Homo sapiens: one gene and its partners. Changing the gene in region 3 together with the main gene of any one other region gives a genetic interaction. Each region holds a gene or a part of one and is shown on either strand. Other genes may lie near its edges.

What was found.
Region 1: changes in CSNK1G2 (region 3) and TPSAB1 together harm fitness more than expected from each alone (negative genetic interaction), as found in Homo sapiens cells (one large-scale study listed by BioGRID).
Region 2: changes in CSNK1G2 (region 3) and CDC25A together harm fitness more than expected from each alone (negative genetic interaction), as found in Homo sapiens cells (one large-scale study listed by BioGRID).

The regions. Positions count from the first base shown.
Region 1 is NC_000016.10:1,238,944-1,243,769, forward strand, and holds TPSAB1 (tryptase alpha/beta-1 precursor), read left to right. Parts: upstream 1-1,761; 5' UTR 1,762-1,785; intron 1,786-1,995; coding exon 1,996-2,056; intron 2,057-2,209; coding exon 2,210-2,381; intron 2,382-2,490; coding exon 2,491-2,756; intron 2,757-2,883; coding exon 2,884-3,047; intron 3,048-3,132; coding exon 3,133-3,297; 3' UTR 3,298-3,611; downstream 3,612-4,826. UniProt on the Homo sapiens protein: Tryptase is the major neutral protease present in mast cells and is secreted upon the coupled activation-degranulation response of this cell type. May play a role in innate immunity.
Region 2 is NC_000003.12:48,160,203-48,164,977, reverse strand, and holds part of CDC25A (M-phase inducer phosphatase 1), read left to right. Parts: intron 1-540; coding exon 541-671; intron 672-4,775. UniProt on the Homo sapiens protein: Tyrosine protein phosphatase which functions as a dosage-dependent inducer of mitotic progression. Directly dephosphorylates CDK1 and stimulates its kinase activity. Also dephosphorylates CDK2 in complex with cyclin-E, in vitro.
Region 3 is NC_000019.10:1,964,311-1,969,446, forward strand, and holds part of CSNK1G2 (casein kinase I), read left to right. Parts: intron 1-4,480; exon of another isoform or gene 4,481-4,595; intron 4,596-5,136. UniProt on the Homo sapiens protein: Serine/threonine-protein kinase. Casein kinases are operationally defined by their preferential utilization of acidic proteins such as caseins as substrates. It can phosphorylate a large number of proteins. Participates in Wnt signaling.

The sequences.
Region 1 (4,826 bases), on a different chromosome or scaffold from region 3:
GTGACGGGAGTTCAGCTTTTTGCTGCGGGACGGCAGAGATAGGATGCGGGGCTTCCTGAGAGGCGCCGGGGCAGGGCCGCACAGGTCCATCCACCTCCCCTGGGACCCCAGCCCTGCAGCAGCCCCAGGGGAGCGGCCGGGGATCGGGGCGGGGTGCCCAGGACGCGCCCTGATTGGCCCAGTGTTAGCCAATCAAAGCTCTCGCATCCCCATGGTGCTGATTGGTCCGCCTCCCAGGCCTGACCCAATCGGAGCATTCCTAGGAGGAGCGGCCCCAGAGCCCCTGACTCGGGGGTCCCAGAGCCCTCTGCACACCACAGCCCCGGTGTCCCCGTGTGTCCCTGGGTTCTCCCAGCCCTGGTGTCCCCTGAGTCTCTTCTTCACCGTCAGCCCTGGTGTCTCCCGTGTCCCTGCCACACCCTCATCCCTGGTGTCCCCCGTCACCCCATCCCCTCACCTCCTGGGCTCCTGAAGGTCCCATCTTGTGGGCCTCATTCATGGAACCAGGACGGGGCAGGTGGAGGCCTCTGGGGAGTTTGTCCAGAGAATGGAGGAGAAGCAGGGTCATGAGCAGGAGCGGTCTGGGCCACCCCTGCCTGTCCCCCGGGGGGTGCAGCCCGGAAGGAGTCCAGATGGATATGGCCCCGCAGTGCAGAGTCAGCCCCAAACCAGGCTGGTCCCAGGCAGGGTGGGGGCAGGAGGAGCCCCGGAGTGGCCCTGTGTTGGGGGTCGGGGGGCAGGCAGGGGGTCCTGGGGCTCAGAAGCGGAGGAGGTGGGCTGGAGGCCCCAGTGACCAACAGGCCCAGGGGAGTCGGGAGGTGGGGTGGACGGACCTGCAGGGACAGTGTCAGCGCTGAATGGGATGGAGAGCACAGGGAGCTGGGGCCGGGGATGAGACCATGGGGAGCTGGGGCTGGGGCTGGGACTAGTCCATGGGGAGCTGGGGCTGAAGTTGGGGGTGAGTCCATGGGGAGCTGGGCTGGGCCTCCTGGGGTTGCACCTGCACTCCTCTCTGCTCTTCCCTCTGCGTATGAAGCTCAGATCCCATGATAAGGAGGCACCTGCAGACCAGGGGACCTGCACGGACAGCCCCAGAGGTGGACATTGAGGACTCGTAGGAGGACTTGGGTCTCATACGGCGGGTGGGGAGCAGGGCCCCTTCCTGGCTGAGGACACTTGGTGCTGTCCCCTCTCAAGGCTGTTTCCCCATCTGACAAAGGGGTCTCACGTGAGCCCCCAACCAAGTGAGTCGAGGAGGGCTGGCCCCACCCCCGTGGATTCGGAGTCCGTAGGAGGGGTGTCACCCGTCATGTCCCCACCCCGTGGGCACCTTCCCGTCTCTTGGAGCGTGGCCCATGGACATGAGTTCCTCACCCGTGTCCCTCTTGGGGAAACAGGTTTCAGGAGCGACGGGTCTTGTAGCCTGGGGCAGCCAGGCCACCTGGGTGCAGCAATGCCTGAAGGCCTCCTGGCACCGAGACAGGGGCAGGAGCAGATCCCACCAGCGGGAAGGTGGTGGGTTCCAGTGCTGGGATCCACCAGCTGACAGGTGGAGCTGCCAGTCTCCAGTGCTCAGCCCTCAGCGGGGCCTGCCTGGCAGCCCCACACACAGAGGGCATCGGGGTGGCGGGGGCACGTGTTACACGGGGGCCCTGGGTCTGAGTCATCCACTTCCTCCGAGTCTGGATGGGAGGACCCAGCGCCCCTCCTCCGCCCCCTCCTGATCTGGAAGGATAAATGGGGAGGGGAGAGCCCACTGGGTAGAAGGAACAGGGAGCGGCCAGGGTAAGTCCCCACTCTCAGAGACCCTGACATCAGCGTCACCTGGAGCAGAGTGGCCCAGCCTCAGACTCAGAGCACCAAGACCCAGGCCCGCAGGCCTGGACCCACCCCGGTCCCCCCGTCCCAGCTCCATTCTTCACCCCACAATCTGTAGCCCCCAGCCCTGCCCTGTGAGGCCCGGCCAGGCCCACGATGCTCCTCCTTGCTCCCCAGATGCTGAATCTGCTGCTGCTGGCGCTGCCCGTCCTGGCGAGCCGCGCCTACGCGGCCCCTGGTGAGTCCCAGCCGGGGTCCACCCTGCCCCTCACCACATTCCACAGGTCAGGGCCTGGGTGGGTTCTGGGGAGGTCGGGCTGGCCCCCACACAGGGAAGGGCTGGGCCCAGGCCTGGGGCTGCTTCCTGGTCCTGACCTGGCACCTGCCCCAGCCCCAGGCCAGGCCCTGCAGCGAGTGGGCATCGTCGGGGGTCAGGAGGCCCCCAGGAGCAAGTGGCCCTGGCAGGTGAGCCTGAGAGTCCACGGCCCATACTGGATGCACTTCTGCGGGGGCTCCCTCATCCACCCCCAGTGGGTGCTGACCGCAGCGCACTGCGTGGGACCGTGAGTCTCCCGGGGCCTGGAGGGGTGGGGAAGGGCTGGATGTGAGCCCTGGCTCCCGGGTGCTCCTGGGGGCTGCCCAGGGCCCTGAGTGGGATCCTCCGCTGCCCAGGGACGTCAAGGATCTGGCCGCCCTCAGGGTGCAACTGCGGGAGCAGCACCTCTACTACCAGGACCAGCTGCTGCCGGTCAGCAGGATCATCGTGCACCCACAGTTCTACACCGCCCAGATCGGAGCGGACATCGCCCTGCTGGAGCTGGAGGAGCCGGTGAACGTCTCCAGCCACGTCCACACGGTCACCCTGCCCCCTGCCTCAGAGACCTTCCCCCCGGGGATGCCGTGCTGGGTCACTGGCTGGGGCGATGTGGACAATGATGGTGGGTCTGGGGACAGTGGAGGTGGGGCCAGGGTCTTAGCCACAGCCCAGCCCCTGGGCTCCCTCTGGGCTCCAGGTGGGGGTTGCCCGGCCCCCTCCTGAGGCTGCACCCTCTTCCCCACCTGCAGAGCGCCTCCCACCGCCATTTCCTCTGAAGCAGGTGAAGGTCCCCATAATGGAAAACCACATTTGTGACGCAAAATACCACCTTGGCGCCTACACGGGAGACGACGTCCGCATCGTCCGTGACGACATGCTGTGTGCCGGGAACACCCGGAGGGACTCATGCCAGGTGGGCCCCGCCTGTCCCCCGCCCCCCGCCCCCCAACCCCCACTCCCAGGCCTGTTCGGCGAGCGCTGACCTCTGACCTTCCCAGGGCGACTCCGGAGGGCCCCTGGTGTGCAAGGTGAATGGCACCTGGCTGCAGGCGGGCGTGGTCAGCTGGGGCGAGGGCTGTGCCCAGCCCAACCGGCCTGGCATCTACACCCGTGTCACCTACTACTTGGACTGGATCCACCACTATGTCCCCAAAAAGCCGTGAGTCAGGCCTGGGTTGGCCACCTGGGTCACTGGAGGACCAACCCCTGCTGTCCAAAACACCACTGCTTCCTACCCAGGTGGCGACTGCCCCCCACACCTTCCCTGCCCCGTCCTGAGTGCCCCTTCCTGTCCTAAGCCCCCTGCTCTCTTCTGAGCCCCTTCCCCTGTCCTGAGGACCCTTCCCTATCCTGAGCCCCCTTCCCTGTCCTAAGCCTGACGCCTGCACCGGGCCCTCCAGCCCTCCCCTGCCCAGATAGCTGGTGGTGGGCGCTAATCCTCCTGAGTGCTGGACCTCATTAAAGTGCATGGAAATCACTGGTGTGCATCGCTGTGTTTCTGGTTGTGGATGTCACTGGGAGAGAAGGGGTCCAGGTGTGCTGAGGACACCTGCCACAGTGTGAGGTCCTAGCCCTCAAGGCACAGCCAGTCACCGTGGGACGGGGCCTCCTGGGCAGCCCTGGTCCCCGAGGCTGGCTTCTCCCCACACGATGCATCCAGCATTCGGGTCACACAGAGCCACTCGGGCAACTCAGTTGATTATAAAGGACAGCCAGGTCCCTGCAACCGGGTCAAGACAGAGAATGGTCGCCGGGAGCCCCAGGGCTGCCCATCATGAGCCCCTACCCCACGCTTCCCACGAGCTCTTCTCCCGGCCCCTCTGTCCACTGCTTGTGCTTTGCCTAGTTGTTTGCTTTGAGACGGGATCTCGCTGTGTCATCCAGGCTGAAGTGCAGTGGTGTGATCAGGGCTCACTGCAGCCTTAACTCCTGGGCTCAAGCGATCCTCCCATCTTGGCCTCCCATATAGCTGGGCCACAGGCGTGAGCCACCACGCCCAGTTAATTTTTGTATTTTCAGTAGAGATGGGGTTTCGCCATGTTGGCCAGTCTGGTCTCGAACTCCTGACCTCAAGTGATCCGCCCGCCTCGGCCTCCCAAAGTGCTGGGATGACAGGCGTGAGCCACCGCACCCGGCCTGAGTTTGACATTTTCAAATTCATTTTGAGGTCTTTCTCTACATCAATAGGTGAGCCCTCTGCGTCTGGCGAGTGTTGCATTTTATCCCGGGCTCTTGTTTGCATTTTTTATTTGAACATGATTACACCCAGGAATGAAATGCGGGGCTGTTCTGGTTGAAAACAACTCTCTAAAGAAACATTCACTCTTTCCTTCCAACTGTCAGATGCAGAGATGTGCATTTAGTCTCTCCAATCTCTGCAAATGACCTCTGTCCTCACAAGGGGTGGACTCGACTCCCAGCGCCCTCTCCAGCCCCACGTGACCTCTGCCTCTGCAGCCCCTGAAGGCCCATCCCTCGGCTCCTGTTCTGCAGGCCCAGCGTCTTGTCTATGAAGATGGACCTGGAACTCGGGCCCTCCTTCCTCCCTCTGGCCCATCCCACCTTCTAGGGATCACAGAGACAGCACGGGGTGACCCCCAGGGAACACTGAGCCCCTAGAAGCACTTCCACACGCCCACTGGAGGTTTTGCGGGGTGGGAGTCGGAGGGATGAGACCCCGAAGGGAAGCAAG
Region 2 (4,775 bases), on a different chromosome or scaffold from region 3:
CTGCCACGCCCGGCTAATTTTTTTTTTTTTTTAGTAGAGACGGGGTTTCACCATGTTGCCCGGGCTGGTCTCAAACTCCTGAGCTCAGGCAAACCGCCCGCCTCAGCCTCCCAAAGTGCTAGGATTACAGGCATGAGCCACGGCGCCTGGCCTGCCATTTTAATGTTTTACCCGATTAATAGTGTTTAAATATAGTAAGGAGGTACTTTAAATACGATGTTACTGTTTGCCATTGTCTTGTGGCTTTTGAAAATCCCCAAATTTATAAAACTACCTATAAAGTGTACCATTGTCATATTTGAATTGCCCATTTCCAGTCCCCATGTGCATTACTGTATGATGAACGTGTACGGACCCACAAAGCTCCATTGAGATACAGGTGCCAAATGGTCTACTGGGCTATTCAGCTAGAAGAACTGCAAAAATCACAAACTGGTCTTGTGGACTTAAAGATCACTCTTGATGAATCATTACATCTTGCTGAATCATTACTTCATGTGTGAAACGTGCAGGTTCCAAGGGTCTCTGTTGTCTTCACAGGGTGCAGTGAACTTGCACATGGAAGAAGAGGTTGAAGACTTCTTATTGAAGAAGCCCATTGTACCTACTGATGGCAAGCGTGTCATTGTTGTGTTTCACTGCGAGTTTTCTTCTGAGAGAGGTCCCCGCATGTGAGTGCTGCACGGAACTGGGTTCTGGGGCACAGGCTCCATGATGCTTTTGTGGGACATGGTGGTTTGTGGCTTGCACTTGGAGCATATTTTAGCATATCAAGCAACCTCTGGCACATAACAAGCCATTTTCATATGTAATTTTATCCTGAGGTGAACTTTGGCTCTTCCAGTCTCCCCGACTGTCCTTAGTCTGATCTGTGGGGCTACTGTTCTCATGTGACCTCCTTCAAGTACAAAGTGACCGTTCCTTATGCAAATGCCAGAAAAGTGTGAAGTTCTCATTCTGTAAAACCTCATATGATATGATGCTTTGAAACACTTGATATTATTACCAATTTCAGGGTGAAAAGAAAAAAGGGGGCCAAAGAGCTGCCCATCAGTCATCTGTGTCCATTCTAAAAGGATTGCAAGCCTGCTGTTTGTCAGGCACTGACAATAAAAATGTAACTACAGTAAAACACAGTACAGTAAAAATACCACAGCGAGCAGGACCAACAAGGACCCTACTGCAGCAGAGATCCAAGTGGGGATCCGTATAAATGCTAGGAGGACAGGCAGAGAGGTAGGACAGAGAGTGCAGCTTAACTAGGATGGTCCAAGGGAGACTTCTGCAGGACCACGTTCTTATGCCACCTTTTTATTTTGAACCAATTTATTTTAAAAAACATTTTTAAATTAAAAAATTTCAATTTTTTTTTTTTGACGGAGTTTTGCTCTTGTTGCCCAGGCTGGAGTGCAGTGGCACAATCTCTTCTCACTGCAACCTCTGCCTCCCAGGTTCAAGCAGTTCTCCTGCCTCAGCCTCCCAAGTAGCTGGGATTACAGGCATGCGCCATCACGCCCGGCTAATTTTGTATTTTTAGTAGAGGCAGGGTTTCTACATGTTGGTCAGGCTGGTCTTGAACTCCCGACCTTAGGTGATCCGCCTGCCTCAGCCTCCCAAAGTAGTGGGATTACAGGCGTGAGCCACTGCACCTGGCTTTTTCTTTCTTTCTTTCTTTCTTTTTTTTTTTTTTTTTTGAGGCGGAGGCACACTGTTTTCACCCAGACTGGAATGCAGTGGCATGATCTCGGCTCACTGCAACCTCCACCTCCTGGGTTCAAGCGATTCTCCTGCCTCAGCCTCCTGAGTAGCTGGGATAACAGGCGTGCACCACCACACCCGGCTAATTTTTGTATTTGTAGTAGAGATGGGGGTTTCACCATGTTGGCCGGGCTGGTCTTGAACTCCTGACCTCAGGTGATCCACCCGCCTTGACCTCCCAAAGTGCTGGGATTACAGGTGTGAGCCACCACGCCCAGCAGAAATTTCAAATTTTGAGATGGGGTCTTAATATATTGGCCAGGTTGGTCTCAAACTCCTGGCCTCAAGCAATCCTCTCTCCTTGGCCTCCAAAGTGCTAGGATTGCAGGCATGAGCCACTGTGCCCACCCCTTTGAACCTTTTTTTTTTTTTGAGACGGAGTCTCGCTCTGTCACCCAGGCTGGAGTGCAGTGGCACAATCTCGACTTACTGCAAGCTCCGCCTCCTGGGTTCATGCCATTCTCCTGCCTCAGCCTCCCGAGTAGCTGGGACTACAGGTGCCCACCATCACGCCTGGCTAATTTTTTTGTATTTTTAGTAGAGACAGGGTTTCACCATTTTAGCCAGGATGGTCTCCATCTCCTGACCTTGCGATCTGCCCGTCTCGGCCTCCCAAAGTGCTTGGATTACAGGCGTGAGCCACTGCGCCTGACCTGAACCATTTTAAAGCTCAAGAAGAGGTGAGGTTATGGCTGGGCACAGTGGCACCTGTAATCCCAACACTTTGGGAGGCCGAGGCAGGAGGATCACTTGCTCGGGAGTTTCAGACCAGACCAACCTGGGTAACACAGTGGGACCACACCTCTACAAAAAATAGGAGGTGGGAGGATCGTTTGAGCCCAGCAGGTCGAGGCTGTGGTGAGCCATGATCATGCCACTGTACTCCAGCCTAGGTGACAGAGTGAGATTCTGTCTCTCTCTCACACACACACACACACACACACACACACACAAAGGTTATACTTGCACACACTTCACCTGATTTTATTAATTTTTAACATTTTGTCACATTTGTATGTACATGCTCTACACACAGGCAACTACAGTACAACTTGACACTTTTGACTGTCATCTCATAAGTCCTTCAAACATCTGTCTCCAAAGGATGCTCATTCATGAATGGAATTATTCACTCAGCAGTTTTTTTGTTTGTTTGTTTGAGATGTAGTCTTGCTCTGCCACCCAGACTGGAGTGCAGTGGTGCGATCTCGGATCACTGCAACCTCCACCTCCCGGGTTCAAGCAATTCTCCTGCCTCAGGCTCCCAAGTAGCTGGGACTACGGGTGCATGCCACCATGCCAAGCTAATGTTTGTATTTTTAGTAGAGACGGGGTTTTGCTACATTGGCCAGGCTGGTCTCGAACTCCTGACCTCAAGTGATCTACCCGCCTCAGCCTCCCAAAGTGCTGGGATTATAGGCCTGAAACAAACTAATCTGGACACACATACACACACATGTAAATTGTTTTTAAACCCACAAAAGATGCTGCTCTCTTTTTTTTTTATTTTTGAGTCAGGGTCAGTCTCTGTTGTCCAGGCTGGAGTACAGTGGCAGGAGCACAGCTCACTGTAGCCTCTGCCTCCCAGGCTCAAGTGATTCTCCCACCTCAGCCTCCCAGGAAGCTAGGACCACAAACATGCATCACCATGCCTGGCTAATTTTTGTATTTTTTATAGAGACAGGGTCTCACTGTGTTGCCCAGGCTGGTCTCAAACTCCTGGGCTCAGGCAATCCTGGCCTCCCAAAGTGCTTGGATTACAGGTGTGAGCCGCCATGCCCAGCCCAAAAGATGCTATTCTCTTAATCTCTCATTTCCCCATCTTCCTCTTTAACACCTCTAATATAAAGGACATTATTATACCATATTGAAACTTCACCTAGATATACAGAAAACGCCCCATCTCTGTATTCTGTATTTGCAAGCTGCATGTTTATATCACCATCTACAGATACCCCTTACACTTCGTTCCCCACTTGAGTTTCGCCATCACTGGCTTTCTGTTGTTCCACTGGGGAAAGATTTGGGATTCACAGGTGAACTCTTTTTTTTTTTTTTTTTTTTTTTTGAGTTGGAATCTCGCCCTTTCGCCCAGGCTGGAATGCAGTGGCACAATCTCGGCTCACTGCAGCCTCCTCCTCCCGGGTTCAAGCATTTCTCTGCCTCAGCCTCCCAAGTAGCTGGGATTACAGGCACCTGCCACCACGCCCAGCTAATTTTTTGTAGTTTTAGTAGACACAGGGTTTCACTATCTTGGCCAGGCTGGTCTCGAACTCCTGACCTCGTGATCCACCGCCTCAGCCTCCCAAAGTGCTGGAATTACAGGTGTGAGCCACCGCGCCCAGCCAAACTCCTTTTAACCACAGGCAAATGGTTTAAGCTACGTGCTGCAGAGGAAGCTGCTGCCCATCCCTCATGAGCAGCTAACAAAGGCCCCAAACCACTGAGCTTCAAGAGAAAATCAGCAGATACTCTTGGCTCTTGTGTACCAGATACCTTTCTAGATACTGAGGGAGAAGAGCAGTGAACAAAACAGACCAAAAAATCTCTGCCTTCATGGAACTTACATTTCGGAGTGGACAGGAGATCGAGACCAGCCTGGCCAACATGGTGAAATCCCGTCTCTACTAAAAATACAAAAATTAGCCAGGCGTGGTGGCGGACACCTGTAATCCCAGCTACTTTGGAGGCTGAGGCAGGAGCATCCCTTGAACCCAGGAGGCAGAGGTTGCAGTGAGCCGAGATCGCGCCAGTGCACTCCAGCCTGGGCGACAGAGTGAGACTCCATCTCAAAAAAAAAAAAAAAAAGGTGACTGGGTGCGGTGGCTAACTCCTGTAATCCCAACACTTTGGGAGGCCAAGGCAGGTGGATCACAAGGTCAAGAGGTCGAGACCATCCTGGCCAACATGGTGAAGCCCCATCTCTACTAAACATACAAAAATCAGCTGGGCGGTGGCACGCGCCTGTAGTCCCAGCTATTTGGGAGGCTGAGGCAGGAGAATTGCTTGAACCCGGG
Region 3 (5,136 bases):
AACCAGGTTCAAGGTGAAAAGGATTAAGTGTTCCTTGAGACGTGTCAGCCAGCATTCAGACGATCTAGCCAAGGTCACTGCTGGAGGTGGCTTTTCAGGGTAGAAGAAACAGCCTTCTGGAAGAAGATGCCACCCAGGACTTTCCTCGTGTGGAAGAAGCGGTTCCCTGGCTTCCAAGGAGAGGCCCACCCTCTTCACCCTCTTGTTAGGGGCTAACGCAGCTGGTGACTTGAAGGTGATGCCAGGGCTTTTTACCATTCCACAAATCCTAGGGCCCACGAGAATTATGCTAAATCTACTCTGTGCTCTATAAATAGAACAACAGAGCCTGGGTGACAGCACATCTGTTTAACACCTGGCTTATGGAATATTTGAAGCCCACTTTTGAGACCTATTGTTCAGAAAAAAGTTTTTGTTTTTTTGTTTTTTTTTTTGAGACTGATTCTCGCTCGTCACCCAGGCTGGAGTGCAGTGGTGCCATCTCGGTTCACTGCAAGCTCCCCCTCCCGGGTTCACCCCATTCTCCTGCCTCAGCTTCCCGAGTAGCTGGGACTACAGGAGCCCACGACCATGCCCAGCTAATGTTTTTGTAATTTTAGTAGAAACGGGGTTTCAGCGTATTAGCCAGGATGGTCTCGATCTCCTGACTTCATGATCCGCCTGCCTCGGCCTCCCAAACTGCTGGGATTACAGGTGTGAGCCACCGCGCCTGGCCAAAAAGATTTCTTTCAAAATATGACTGCTCACTGACAACGCACCTGGTCACCCAAGATCCCTAGTGGAGACGTACACGATCAGTTTCCGGCCGGGCGCGGTGGCTCACACCTGTGATCCCAGCACTTCGGGAGGCCAAGGCGGGCAGATCACGAGGTCAGGAGATCGAGACCACAGTGAAACCGCGTCTCTACTAAAAATACAAAAAATTAACCGGCCGTGGTGGCGGGCGCCTTTAGTCCCAGCTACTCAGGAGGCTGAGGCAGGAGAATGGCATGAACCCAGGAGGCGGAGGTTGCAGTGAGCCGAGATTGTGCCACTGCACTCCAGCCTGGGCGACAGAGCGAGACTCCGTTTCCAAAAAAAAAAAAAAGATCATTGTTTCCATCCCTGCTAGCACAACATCCAGCCTGTAGCCTGTGGATCAATGAATGAATGAATGACTCGGAAATCAAGATGACTCCTTGACATGTCATTCATTCATTTATTTATGCATGACAAGGTGTCCCACTGTCACCCAGGCTGGAGTGCAGTAGCACGATCTTGGCTCACTGCATCCTCCACCTCCCGGGTTGAAGCAATTGTCTTTCCTCAGCCTCCTGAGTAGCTGGGGCTACAGGTGCGTGCCACCATGCCCAGCTAATTTTTATATTTTTTCATAGGGGGTTTCACCATGTTCCTCAGGCTGGTCTTGAACTCCTGAGCTCAAAGCAGTCTGCCCGCCTCAGCCTCCCAAAGTGCTGGGACTACAGGCCTGAGCCACTGTGCCTGGCCAAGTCTTAGTGTTTTTGAGGCACGGTCTCACTGTGTCTCCCAGGCTGCAGTGGAGAAGCAGAATCACAGCTCACTTTAGCCTCCACCTCCCAGGCTCAAGCGATCCTCTCACCTCAGTCTCCTAAGTAGCTAGGACCACAGGTGCGCACCGCCATGACTGGCTAATTTTGTTTTTATTTTTGTAAAGATAGGGTCTCCCTGTGTTGCCCAGGCTGGTCTTGAACTCCCGGCCTCAAGCAGTCTGCCTGCGTCAGCCTCCCAAAGTGTCGGGGTTACAGGCAGGAGCCACCGCAGCCGCCCATGACTCTCATTATTGAGAAATACATTTGTAAGGCTCTAGGTGCCTGTAGGTGCCGTGGAGAGCAATTCCTCTGATGGAGCTGGGGAAATTGGGTAAATTGAAACCCCCGGAAAGGCTTTGCCGTTCTAGAGGCTGTGAAGGACACGCGTGATCCATGGGAGGAGGTAACATGTCAGGATGAGCGGAAGTTTGGAAGAAGTTGGTCCCAGGCCTGAAAGATCACTGTGAGGGTTCAGGACTTCAGTGGAGGAGGGACTGTAGAGGTTTTAGAAGCAGCAAGAGAACTAGAATGAGAAGGACTTGGAGATGTGACTGCATTGTCGCTGTCTCGCGAGAAAACTTTAACACGTGAGGAGTTGCCTCTGAAGGGTGAGCAGGGGAGTTGCTTCAGTTGCGCTCTAGTCCCAGTGAAGATTCTGTGAACCTGGGGGTAATGAGGACAAAGAACTTGGAACAGCCCGGAACCTCGGTTGATGAAGCCGCGGCCGGGTTGAGAGGACCGACTGCAGTTCTGAAAGACGTTCTGCTGTGGGTAATCAATGCTATCAGACAGCATCACGCCCCACAGAGAAATCTTTCATGAAAGGAAGAGTCCATCGCTGTGGCCAACTTTTTTGTGGTCATAGTTTAAGAAGTTGCCCCAGCCTCCAGCAGCCACCGCCCCAACGAGTCAGCCGCCGTCCACATTGAGGCAAGACCCTTCTCCGGGGAGATTAGGGCCACTCCCGGTTCCCATGATCATTACCATTGCTTAGCAGTAAAGTATTTTTATTTCTTTATTATTTATTTAAGATGGGGTCTTGCTGTATCCCCCAGGCTGGAGTGCAGTGGTGCGATCATAGCTCACTGCAGCCTCCGCCTCCTGGGCTCAAACGATCCTCCCGCCTCAGTCTCCCGAGTAGCTGGGACCACAGGCTTGCACACCACGCCCCGCTTAATTAAAGTGTGTCCTTTGATTAGACACAACGCTACTGCACACTTCCTAGACCACGGTATACTGTGAACGTAACTTGTGTGTGCACTGGGAAACCAGAACATTCGAGCGGCTGTTGCCGTGCGGAACCCAAGGCCTGTGATCCCCACAGGGTGTTTCTGGCACCGGAACGCAGGGGCCACATCCAGGGGGGCAGTGCTTGTGACGCCGGTGCCTTCGTTTCTGATGTGGCTTACTCAGCTGGGAGTTCCTGTCCTAACATTTTCGGCGATGGCTGTGCACCCACGGCCCCTCTTCACCCGCGGCCCCTACGTCCTGCCGGTTGGCAGGAAACCTCTTCCCCTGCACATCTGGGGCACAGCAGCAAACTGTGGTCCCCCTTCTTCAGTGAGGGTGGGGCTTCTGTCTGTCTGGAGCCCTAGAATGGGGCCAGGGGTGGCTGGGGCCTGGGTCAGGGAGGACCCGGCAGGATCTGTGCAGACAGGCAGGTGGCTGCGGTGGCTCCCGGTGCAGGGTTCTTGGCCTCCTGGGCGGGTACCTGGCTTGAGGGCGACGAGGTGACAGCCGCGTCCCTGGGGTTGCACCACCCGAGCGTCCAGTTAACACCACAGCTGCCACCCTTCAGTTCTGCAGGTGGGGCTCCTCCCTCCTCCCCAGGCTGCCCCCACCACCCTTCAGTTCTGCAGGTGGGGCTCCTCCTTCCTCCCTCCTCCCCAGGCTGCCCCCGACCACCCTTCAGTTCTGCAGGTGGGGCTCCTCCTTCCTCCCTCCTCCCCAGGCTGCCCCCGACCACCCTTCAGTTCTGCAGGTGGGGCTCCTCCCTCCTCCCTTCTCCCCAGGCTGCCCCCGACCACCCTTCAGTTCTGCAGGTGGGGCTCCTCCCTCCTCCCTTCTCCCCAGGCTGCCCCCGACCACCCTTCAGTTCTGCAGGTGGGGCTCCTCCCTCCTCCCCAGGCTGCCCCCGACCACCCTTCAGTTCTGCAGGTGGGGGCTCCTCCCTCCTCCCCAGGCTGCCCCCACCACCCTTCAGTTCTGCAGGTGGGGCTCCTCCCTCCTCCCTCCTCCCCAGGCTGCCCCCGACCACCCTTCAGTTCTGCAGGTGGGGCTCCTCCCCAGGCTGTCCCTGACCACCCTTCAGTTCTGCAGGTGGGGCTCCTCCCTCCTCCCTCCTCCCCAGGCTGCCCCAGACCACCCTTCAGTTCTGCAGGTGGGGCTCCTCCCTCCTCCCCAGGCTGCCCCCGACCACCCTTCAGTTCTGCAGGTGGGGGCTCCTCCCTCCTCCCCAGGCTGCCCCTGACCACCCTTCAGTTCTGCAGGTGGGGCTCCTCCCTCCTCCCTCCTCCCCAGGCTGTCCCGAGGCTCCTTGCTGGGGACCGTCCTGCCTCCCGTCGGGGCCTGCGCTGAGACTGGGCTCCATGCCAGCCGGGGCTGGCTGGCCCCCTCGCTCCAGAGAGCGACCTGCACAGAGTCCCCTCAGCCATGAGCCCCTGTCCAGACACGGCGTTTCTCTGTGGGTGGCAACAGGCTCTGGGGCCCTCAGCTCTGGGCTCGGGAGCATTTAAGGTGGTGCAGACTCAGCGAGGGGCTGTGGGCTGGGGTCCCACCATCCCGGGAGCAGGGACTGCGTGTTCCTTCTCAGGACCAGAGGCTTCTGTCTTTTCCCCTGGGGTAGAAGTTTGCTGCCTGCCCCGTGCCCAGCCTTGCTTAGGTGGCTGTTGGCTCCGCTGGTCCCTCAAGCCCCGCCATTCCCTCCTCAGCTCCGCTCTGCACCGAAGGGGATGGGTCCGACCCAGCCTGGCATCATCACAGCCTCGAGTGGCGTCCAGCCTGCCCCGCTCCACCAGTGGCTGCTGGAGAAGAACCCGAGCCTGGGTCAGGCCCTGGGGGCTCCTGCATCAGTGCCCGGCTCTCCGGGGCCTCCTGCCCTCCGGCCCACTCTCCCCGCTCTCAGCATCAACCAGTCGCCATGGGCAGGGGCAGCTCGGTGGCTCCTGTGTCCCTGCCTCGGGCCTGCCTGCTGTCATCTGCCTCCCTCCCTCTTTCCCAGAGCGGCCCTGGGCCTGGATACGGGGACTGTTGTGTGGCCCCTCTGTGTCTGGGGGTGCGACTGCTCCCCTGGCTTCAGGATCCTCAGGGCTTCTACCCGGGATTGGCAGTCATGCTCTCCTGGCAGTACACTCTCCCACCTGTGCCACCCACCCACCCACCCACCCATCCCGCTTTACAGAAAGCCCCCTGAGCCCTACCCTGTTCGTCCCCAGGCAGCCACGCCGAGATCTCTGGCCTCTGATGTCATGTGATGTGTGCTTCCCAGCTGGGTTCCGGGCAGGGACGGTGCTCATCATGCCCCGGCCTTCAGAGCTCCTTCCAGCCCAGCAGTCTCCTGGCTGTGTCCTCTGTGGCCTCCGCCCCG